Regions from separate parts of the Homo sapiens genome. Here region 2 is linked to region 1. The links come from fine-mapping of genetic effects on gene expression. A gene starts in region 1. The other region holds a variant in brackets. All regions are shown on one strand. Distances are between the middles of the regions.

Region 1 (4,401 bases):
ACAGTAGGAAAAAAGTACATAGTTACTGTTAAACCTGCATCGTTTCACTAAAATAATTCAAAAGACACTTCTGATGTGCTAAGAATGAGTCTTAACATCCTTACCTTTGGTGTGATACATTTTTGAAGACAAGGTGGTTCTTCTGGAATACCCATCCAAGGTGCTATGATCATTACCAAAGCTTTCAGTGATGGTTTCCTCAATTTCTCCTCGGAAATGATTTTGATCAGAAGACACACATATTCCTAAGGAAGCAGGAAATAGTGATTAACTTCAGGGTTGTAATGCATTACTGCTAACAGCTGTGACAGTGGCAGTCTGTTATGCCAGCATCAACTTGAGATACTTCATTGCAGTGACATCATTTTAAACACAAGCCAAACTTCCTCTTTACTGTTAATGCAAAACTCTCCAGATGGACAGAAGCACCAATGTGTATACTGTATACAGTCAGTCATAGGTAATATCCCCAGTATAGCCATTTAAAATACTTTCCCACCAACTGTGGTAGGGGCAAGTGAGATTTCTGCCCATTTTAATATTACCTTTGGGGTAAGAAAAAGAAACTCAGTCACTTTAAAAATGTTCTTAAAAATAACTTCTCTGCCCCTGGTGCTATATGGGTCCTACCAGACTAAGTTAAGCAAATGCAATTCCAGCTGCCTGGAACATTGCAATCTCACCGGCCAGTTACTTTACTGTGTAATTTCTATATTACAGAGATTTACTTAGTTCATCCTGGAGTACTGCTGGGTCCTAAGGAGGGTCGTCGCCCTGTTAGCTTATTTCTGGAGACCTCTTTAGCTGTCTAAATCCACCTTTTGAAAAATTAAAAGTTAGTGGATCTGTGGTTGGGGGGAGGAGTACTTATATTAAGGCAGCAGAGGGTAGAGGGAGGGGGAAGGATGGAGAAGTCAAGTTGTGAGGGTACCAAGATCTCTCTTAAAAATGGCCAATGCAGATAAATCAGTCCTCTGGCTGACAACAGTTTCAGCAAAAATCAGAAGGCGAGGCCAGTCTGGCAAAACTGTGAGAATCACAATAAGAAAAATGAAAAGGACAGCTGAACGCCAAAGCTGGTTTCTTTGATATCTGTATGATCCCATCGTCCTCCTCATCATCCCCCTTCTCAATTGACCTCAAGGTTCTCCCCAGACAAATTTTTATGGAAGAGTCCACTACGAGGTGAACCGTTGTATTGAATCATTGAGGGACACGGAGGAAGATAAGGACCTCAGAGACCTCCCAACTTCTCTCTTCTTCCCGATTAAACACTTGCAATGAAGATACTTCAGCGGAATCCTGCATGCTGAACACCCATTTGCAGGTGGCGCCGCAGTGTTCTCAGGGCGGAGATTTCTCCCCCCACCCCCCCCAACCCCCCGCCCCCGCCCAATTCATAGACGCTCAAAGGCTGGACAGTTTTAGTGTGAAAGGGAGCTTTCAGGACTCACCATTTTTGCAGTAATTCCCGGGGCAGCACATAGCGTGACGCATGCAGCGTTTTCGGCGCTTCCTGCAGGCGAGACAGATTTGCACGCCTGCGTCCCCTCCGCGGGTGGGACTAGCGCAGTACTCATCAGTGCCGCACTCCTCGTCCTCTGCGCACGGGTACGGCTGTGGGAAGGGTTCGGGGAGAGGGTGAGGCACCCAGACGTCCAGGTACCCGCCCTCTTGGACCCGGGCGCTGATCACAGTCCTTATCTGTCCACCTCTCCAAAACCTGTTACTGCCCACTGCTCCCAAATGCAGGGTTACCAAATGCTCCCTGAACCGCACACATTCAGCACGTTCTACTCCCTCGTCTCCAGATAGGACCCTTTCAAGGTCAGAGCATCCTCTGAGTGCCCGACCCCTCTCACCTGGTAGTTGTCAATGGTCTGGTACTTATTCCCGCCCGGGTACAGGATTCCCGGCGCGGCGCTGACTGCAGAGCCTGGGTGCCCCGCAGCGCCGCCCAGCGGTGGGGGCAGGTTCTTGATAGCGTTGGAATTGAGAACCGAGTTCAAGGTGGCGCTCACTCCCAGCAGAGGGTGGCCGCCGAGAGCCGCCGCTACCATCGCGACAAAGACCCGGGTAGCTCCCGCTGCGCCCAGAGCCATCATCTCAGAAGGACTCAAGAGGGAGAAAGAAAGAGAAAATGACCGTCACTTTGCAAGCCTGGGTCCCCACGAAACCGTGCCGGTTCGGCTGCAGAGTCAGGGTCCGGGAGCCCCCTGCGGTCCCAGAGTCCTGACTGCAGGGAGCACAGAGCTCTGCGCCGCCACCGCCACCGCGGCTGCCTTTATACCGCGGGCCCGGAGCATTCCGGCCCCTTGGGAGGGAGACAACAAAGCCGGGATGGGATTTCAAAGCGCTGGGAGGGGCTGGGAGGGGGTGTGTTTGTGTACATGAAGGGGGGCCTTTGACACTCTTCACCCCGCCCCTCCCTTGCTTAGTCGCTCGGCTGGCCCGGCTCACCTTCGGGGTGAAGGCTACCAGCGAGCGTTATAGCAGACGACTTTAATAAATGCAGGCGGCAGCAGGAACTCTGGGAACTTGGGTGCCCTTGCCTGGCAGTAAGGGTTGAATTATCCGGATCTGAAATACTTTACAGAGCCGAGGGGTGATAGGCTCTGCAAAAGCACTTTTTGCCCCTCTCCTTTATGCCAATACTCGCTGACTGTGCACACAAGTCATATTCAGTATTAAATACAAACCGGTCTGTAATTCAATGGCTCTAGCAAGACGCCTCTGAGAGGGCCAGGTGGCGGGTGCAAGTTGCTCATTAACCCTTTAGAGTCGCAGTTTGCAGATCTGAGTTAGATCCCCGGCTTTGAGGTCCTTCAGTTGCCCTCCTCCCCCACCTCCCCCCGCCACTGCGAGAAAAATGTGCAAAGAGAAGGAAATTTGCACATCAAACGAGGGTAAGAAGGAAGAAGAGCTAATTCTCTTTTGATGGGAAGTTTAGAGAGGGAGGCGAGAGACTGGCGTTTAGAAATTAGATCAGGGGTGGAGGGAAGAGGGAAATGACCATCCGATAATCAAACCATTTAATGTTGTTCTTTGAATCAGGGCAATCGCGGCGGTAGATGAACTTGATTAGGCAGACGCGTGAGATCAAAGTGGCCGGGACCAAAGCGGACAGGGTCCAACGTGCCAGGTCAGTCGCCTTTCCCCGGTTCTCCCTTCTCAGTGGTGGGCTAATGTGGAGAAATAAGAAACCCTTAGGGCTTAGCGCCTGACTTCCTCATTAGTATATCACATCGCAACGCTTCCGAATGCAGGGTTTGCTCCCAAGTCTTACCTTGCACGGGACCACGCAATACCCTTTCTAGGGAGAAAAGAAACAACCTTGAGGAGAAGAAGAGCTGAAAGTGAATTAGAAAGTGAATTTGACGTCATTGAAATTGGTGTGTGGATATAATAAAGTAAGGCTGGTGTATAAGAATGATGTCATGCTTATAAATGGGAAATGATCTATTTAATTCAACAAAAACTTATTGGAAGCCTAGAGCCCTGGCATTGGGCTGCCCTCTGGGTTGTTACCTTATTTTTATTTTTTAAATTTTTTGGTGAGATGGGTGGTGGGGGGAGGGGCACAGTGAATACAAATATTTATGAGACACAGCTCTCATTTTAAATAATAAAGTTCTCTTTATTCTAATTACAGTAATAATAAAAGATGTAGTAACAATAAAATTATAGCAATAAATATAAAAGCATACATAATTCTTTTAAAAACAGGTTGATATTATAAGTGTCAGAAAATAAGCAACTGTTTTGTGAGTTTGGAAAAGGGAGAGATGATTGAATAATCACTATTGAATTAAAAAAGAGTAAGATATATTTATTTTGTCTTCCTCTAAGCTGTATAGATTTAGGCTGTCTATAATGACTCCACATGCTGACCTACTATAGTCAGAACTGGGGCCACCACCAAGTAAAGCCAGTGACAATCTTAAAGTAAAAAAATCCTAAAGTTTACTGGGAGAAGGAGTAATTAAAACACAATTTACTATGGTCTGTGTTCTAGTTCCTTCAGTTTCAAAGGTAATATTAAGAAGATCATCTAAACAATTCTTGAATGGTACCCTAGTTATATTAGTGTCCTTCCCATCCCAAATTCCATCTGTCCAGGAAATTATCCTGTCAGGAATCAATGCGTTAAGCACCTTCAGTGTACTAGGAAATCTGCAAGCTGTGTTAAGTTTGAATGACTTTGAAACGTAGAGAAAAATCCGCCTGCCAATCAGAAGGTTGAAAATGTTTCTTTTTAGTCCTATTAACCTGTTTAAATATTTTGAATCTAGAAATATATTTGTGCCACACTAAAGGCCAATCTCTTGCCTTTTTTTCTGAAGAGATAGTATATGATTAATACATTTAATGAACTTGGTTCATTAAAAGCTTGGCTTCACA
Region 2 (4,401 bases), 32 kb after region 1:
CCTGCTTCACTGACCAACATTATAAGCCTTAAAAGGCAGAATTGGTACATTTGTATGAATCTTCCTTCACCTCAGTTCCTCTTTCATTCTGTAGTGCTTAATTAGGTCTCTGCATGAACAGTCTTTGCTTTTTCAAGGTCCAGCCAGTCCTCTAAATGTCATTATTACTATCGAAGATCATTAGATATGACATTCAGGACCAAAATACTTTGGAGTCATGCTTGTGGTCCAAGCATCATTCCTAGTCACATGCCATACTTCATAGTGTTTGGCAGGTGTGTTTTGTGGAACTTTATTTGTAACTAAAGATCATCCTACTTGTTTTATTCTTGCCTTCTCCCACCCCCACCCCTGGCCACCGTCTCTTACCACCACCATCATCTCTTTGGGTAGAAAAGGAAAAGTAAAGATTTTTTTAATGCTGTTGTCTTTGACCAAAATTCTTTCTGTCTTGTTATTTCTTGAAATGAATATTAAGTTTAGGTATGTTTAATCATAATGTTTCGATATATATATTTATGGTAAAAAAATTAAGTTTGGTTTTGAAAATACAACATAAATTGTGACTTATAGTGCTTTATTTTTATTGCTGCTCTGCTATTCTGTAATTTCTATGTCCTTGAGGTTATTTAGAAAAATGCTTTTTAAATTTTCAAGTATTTAGACTTTTTATTTTAAATCTTTGTTATTAATTCCAAGTTTTATTATATTCCAGTCAGATATTGTAACCTGTGCAATTTCTACTTTAAAGGATTAAAGGTTTTTCTGTTATTAATTATTTCTTACAGTTTAGTATATGCCAGTTTTTAAGATTAAGGTTTTAATCATTTTCACCTTATTACTTAATGAATAAACAATGATTGTAGAGAAATGTCTAAACATTTAAGGAGAAATATAAGTTGTCATGTTTAATATTTTAGTCTAGTTATTATAGGTGAATATTTTACTTCCTCAAAAATAGTTAATATTTAGTTTTCTTCTATTTATTATATAATTGGTTCTTATAGCAATTCTAAGCACACTAGAAAGATTACCTTTTTATCTATCTCTCTGCCTATTTACCTATCTATCCATCCACACACATATGTTAAATTTAACCTTCTACTTTGTCCAAATTTTTCATATCTTTACAGGTCTACTTAATTGGTCATACTTTTAAAATAATTTACCTCCATCCACAAGATCAAAATTGAACAATCCACACTGAACAAAATTGGATTATGTCACACATAATTTATTTGAAGTCAATAGAGAAACTTTATGGGTAATAATGTAAAATACCCATAAATAAAAATAAAATCAAAACACAACTATTTCTGGCAATGACTGTCGTTGTTGTAGTAGTAGCAGCTGCTAACATTCATGGAATGCTTACTATGTGCGAAACACTCTTCTAAGTGTTTCATGTATGCACTGAATCCTCACAGAGTACCCTGTGCTCAAAGTCCTCAGTCTTCCTCTCATGTTCACTGTAGTGACTAAGTCCTCTTAAGTAATTCTTCACATCCTGCCTCACAATTACTCTTTTTTTCCATTGCCCTTGCCCTACTCTAGGCTCTCAGTGTCCTAGAACTAAATTACTGCAACAATCTTCAAACTAGCTTCCTATTCCTCTTCCAATTTGCTTATTACTGCCAACTTGTTTTTCCTTAAATACCACAACACACATCACTCAACCTTTGTCAGAAAATCTCAATGATTCCCTCTGTAGATGGAGTCCAAACACTCAAGTGCAGCAATCATGATCGTCAAAAGATGACTGTTCCTGTTTTTTTTACATGAACCTTCTCCATGTCTGTGACGATTATTGCCTTTCTCTTTAAGCCATGCCTATTTGCCTGGAATACCCTTTTCTTGCTCTCTATATCTAAGTCCTACTCTTCATTCAAGACACAGCTGCCTTATATTCATTCTTCAAAAGCCTCTTTACGAACCCATCCCTGTCCTGAAATCTGTAGGTCATAACACCCCTGTCACTCACTGTTTTAGCACATGTCATGGTAGTGTATTTGTTGTTCTTTTAATATGGGTCCTTGAGGATCTTAAAGT[T/C]TGTTTTATACCTTGTGGTGTCCCTAGTGCCTATTTGAGTTGATGATAATAACATTACAGGAAAGATGTACAAAGCAGTCACCTTTCATTTAGATATAACAGTTGCTAACAGGTCCTCTTACTTCTATAGAAAATTGACCCTAGATATTTTTATATGATTATCATCTCCCCTGTTTCATTGCTGGCTAAATGACTGGGCTAAGATAGCTCACAGAAGGACATTATATCCTTCCACATTCACATATGTAAAAAAGAAGTAGCAATAATGAGACCAAAAGTTAGTGTTCAGGTGGTTGCCCTAGCCTGGACTATTTTATACCTTACATTATGAATTCCTGGTCATCTGTATAACTAATTAAACTGTGGTACCAAGATATGGTGAAAAGTACTTTAAGATGGTCTAATCCAAGTGACAAAAGCAGGAGTGTGTAGCTGCATGCTGGTCTATTTTTATCAGCAGTTCCCTATCAATATCCATACCTGCCAGTCAGGAGTTCATACATTAGGATTCCCAGTGACCAGTAGTCGGCTGAAATGTCATGGCCTTTGTTCAGGATGATCTCTGGGGCTACATACTCTGGAGTCCCACAAAAAGTCCATGTTTTCTTTCCAAATCCTATTTTCTTTGCAAAGCCAAAATCAACCTTACAAAGAGAGAAAAACAAGATACTTAAGCTCCTTATGATTAAGTTTTAAAGTAATAAGTTATTTTGAAGCACACTGATGATGATAATAATTTAAAAACATGTATGTTTTTATAGTTCTGTCTTCCAAAAAGAATAGTCTATATTGCAAAGACAGTCTCCCTGATGCACCTCAGTTTTAATGGCAAAAGTTGACACCTGAGTATAGCATAAAATTCACATCATTAAAAATAAAGGTAAATCTTCCTTTCCGAATATAGTTTTCATTTTTTCTTCTTTTATGCTAATGGAGGTTGGAGTGTAAACACAGAATCTCTTCTGTACCTAAAAATTGTTAACGACCAGTTGGGCCTACTTAACATCTTTCCCAGAATATACATGATTTCTGCTGGATTTAATGAAGGCGACAATTCATTTAGTATTAATTATTTGAAAAGCTATTTTATGTTTGCAGGAAGTGAGTAAGATAGTTTTGGGACCAATGACTCTGCCCTTAGTAAGCATAAACAGAAATAAAATTATAATGTATTCTTCATTTTTCTGGAACTCTTTTGAAGGAAGAGTGTCGACTGCAGAAAATATATTTTTTCTAAAACGATTTGGTTGAAACTACAAATAAAAAACTGCCACTGATTTGATTTCTCTAAAAACCACATGCTGAATAACAATTCTGAAAACTTTAAAAATGGAATCAAGCTGTTAACAGATCCAACAAAAGTTGTGCATTTGTAAATAAAAGAACTTCTCTTCTATGGTAAATCTTTACAGCTTTTGACCATTATTATTATTACTATTACATAACCTGGCTAGCATTGCCTGTAAAGCACATTTTTTTCCATTAGCATTATTCTTAAATCTAAAATATTAAAATGATTTATGGTTTTCCATAATATAAAAACCCATTGCTTATGAATGGCAAAAAGCTGACTGGAGAAAAGGACTTCTGGGCATGTAAACACATGCCAGCAAGTGTGTTTTCTCATGCTTATAAAAGCATCTTTTGCCAGAGTATTGTTAATTCAAACTTAGCCAACTTAATTTTTCATAACTGATGCATCATTTGAAAGAACATTCAGTTGAAAAGTGTAATGCTAAAATCTGCTTTTAAGAAAGTTACAACATTGAAAAGGAAAACTCAGATTTCATATTAGCAAATGAACACAGTTTTATAAACAAATATTTTTAATCTGCAGGGCAGAAAGCACGTATGAAATGCACTGACCAGTTTGGCATAACCTCGGTGATCTAGGATGAGATTTTCTGGCTTGAGGTCCCTGTAAATGATTCCTTTGGAATGCAGATAGGCAAAAGCTTCTACCACACATGCTGTGTAAAATCTGGTTGTAGAATCTTCAAACGAACCTCTGAGGTGCAGAAATGGAATGAAAATTGTATAAAAAATTAATTTCTGTAATATGGCTTTATTTTTTTTTTCTCATTTCACTATATTCCTTTGCCAAAATTTAACCCAGAGATCACTGTCCTGCTAGCTAAATGTTACATGATTGCCATTACATTGGGTTTTCTGAAGCATTCAAGGATCAAGTTAAGGAATTCTCTGTCTTTATGAATGGAATAGTTAAATCTCACTTACTGAAAGGGCTGAAAGAATAGTTCAACACAACACATTTCATGTACTTAGTGTCTTCCTCTCAACAGCCCACTACAATCGAAAAAGGCACAGACTTACAGAAGTAGGCAGGAGAGA

Which allele goes with the higher level. Positions count from the first base shown, and alleles are read on the strand shown. Sizes are in standard deviations (SD) of each study's normalised expression.
For the expression in sigmoid colon of the gene that starts at base 2,259 in region 1, C is the high allele of the variant in region 2 and T is the other (moderate effect, 0.46 SD a copy in GTEx).

Evidence for each region. PIP is the estimated chance that this variant, and not a neighbour inherited with it, causes the effect.
Region 2: its variant is the best candidate, but not a certain one, in a credible set for the expression of DKK1 in sigmoid colon (GTEx, PIP 0.54).

What each region holds. Positions count from the first base shown.
Region 1 is chr10:52,312,139-52,316,539 of GRCh38, reverse strand. DKK1 (dickkopf Wnt signaling pathway inhibitor 1) reads right to left here and starts at 2,259. Exons shown (of 4, transcript NM_012242.4): 1 at 1,863-2,259; 2 at 1,455-1,617; 3 at 105-245. The coding sequence starts at 2,105. PRKG1-AS1 (PRKG1 antisense RNA 1) reads left to right here and starts at 2,412. Exons shown (of 6, transcript NR_038277.1): 1 at 2,412-2,906; 2 at 3,055-3,142.
Region 2 is chr10:52,280,445-52,284,845 of GRCh38, reverse strand. It overlaps PRKG1 (protein kinase cGMP-dependent 1), which reads right to left. Exons shown (of 18, transcript NM_006258.4): 13 at 3,916-4,057; 14 at 2,530-2,693. Among named protein-coding and RNA genes, the nearest start is that of PRKG1-AS1, 31 kb to the left of the region's middle. The variant T/C (reference allele first, on the strand shown) is at 2,050.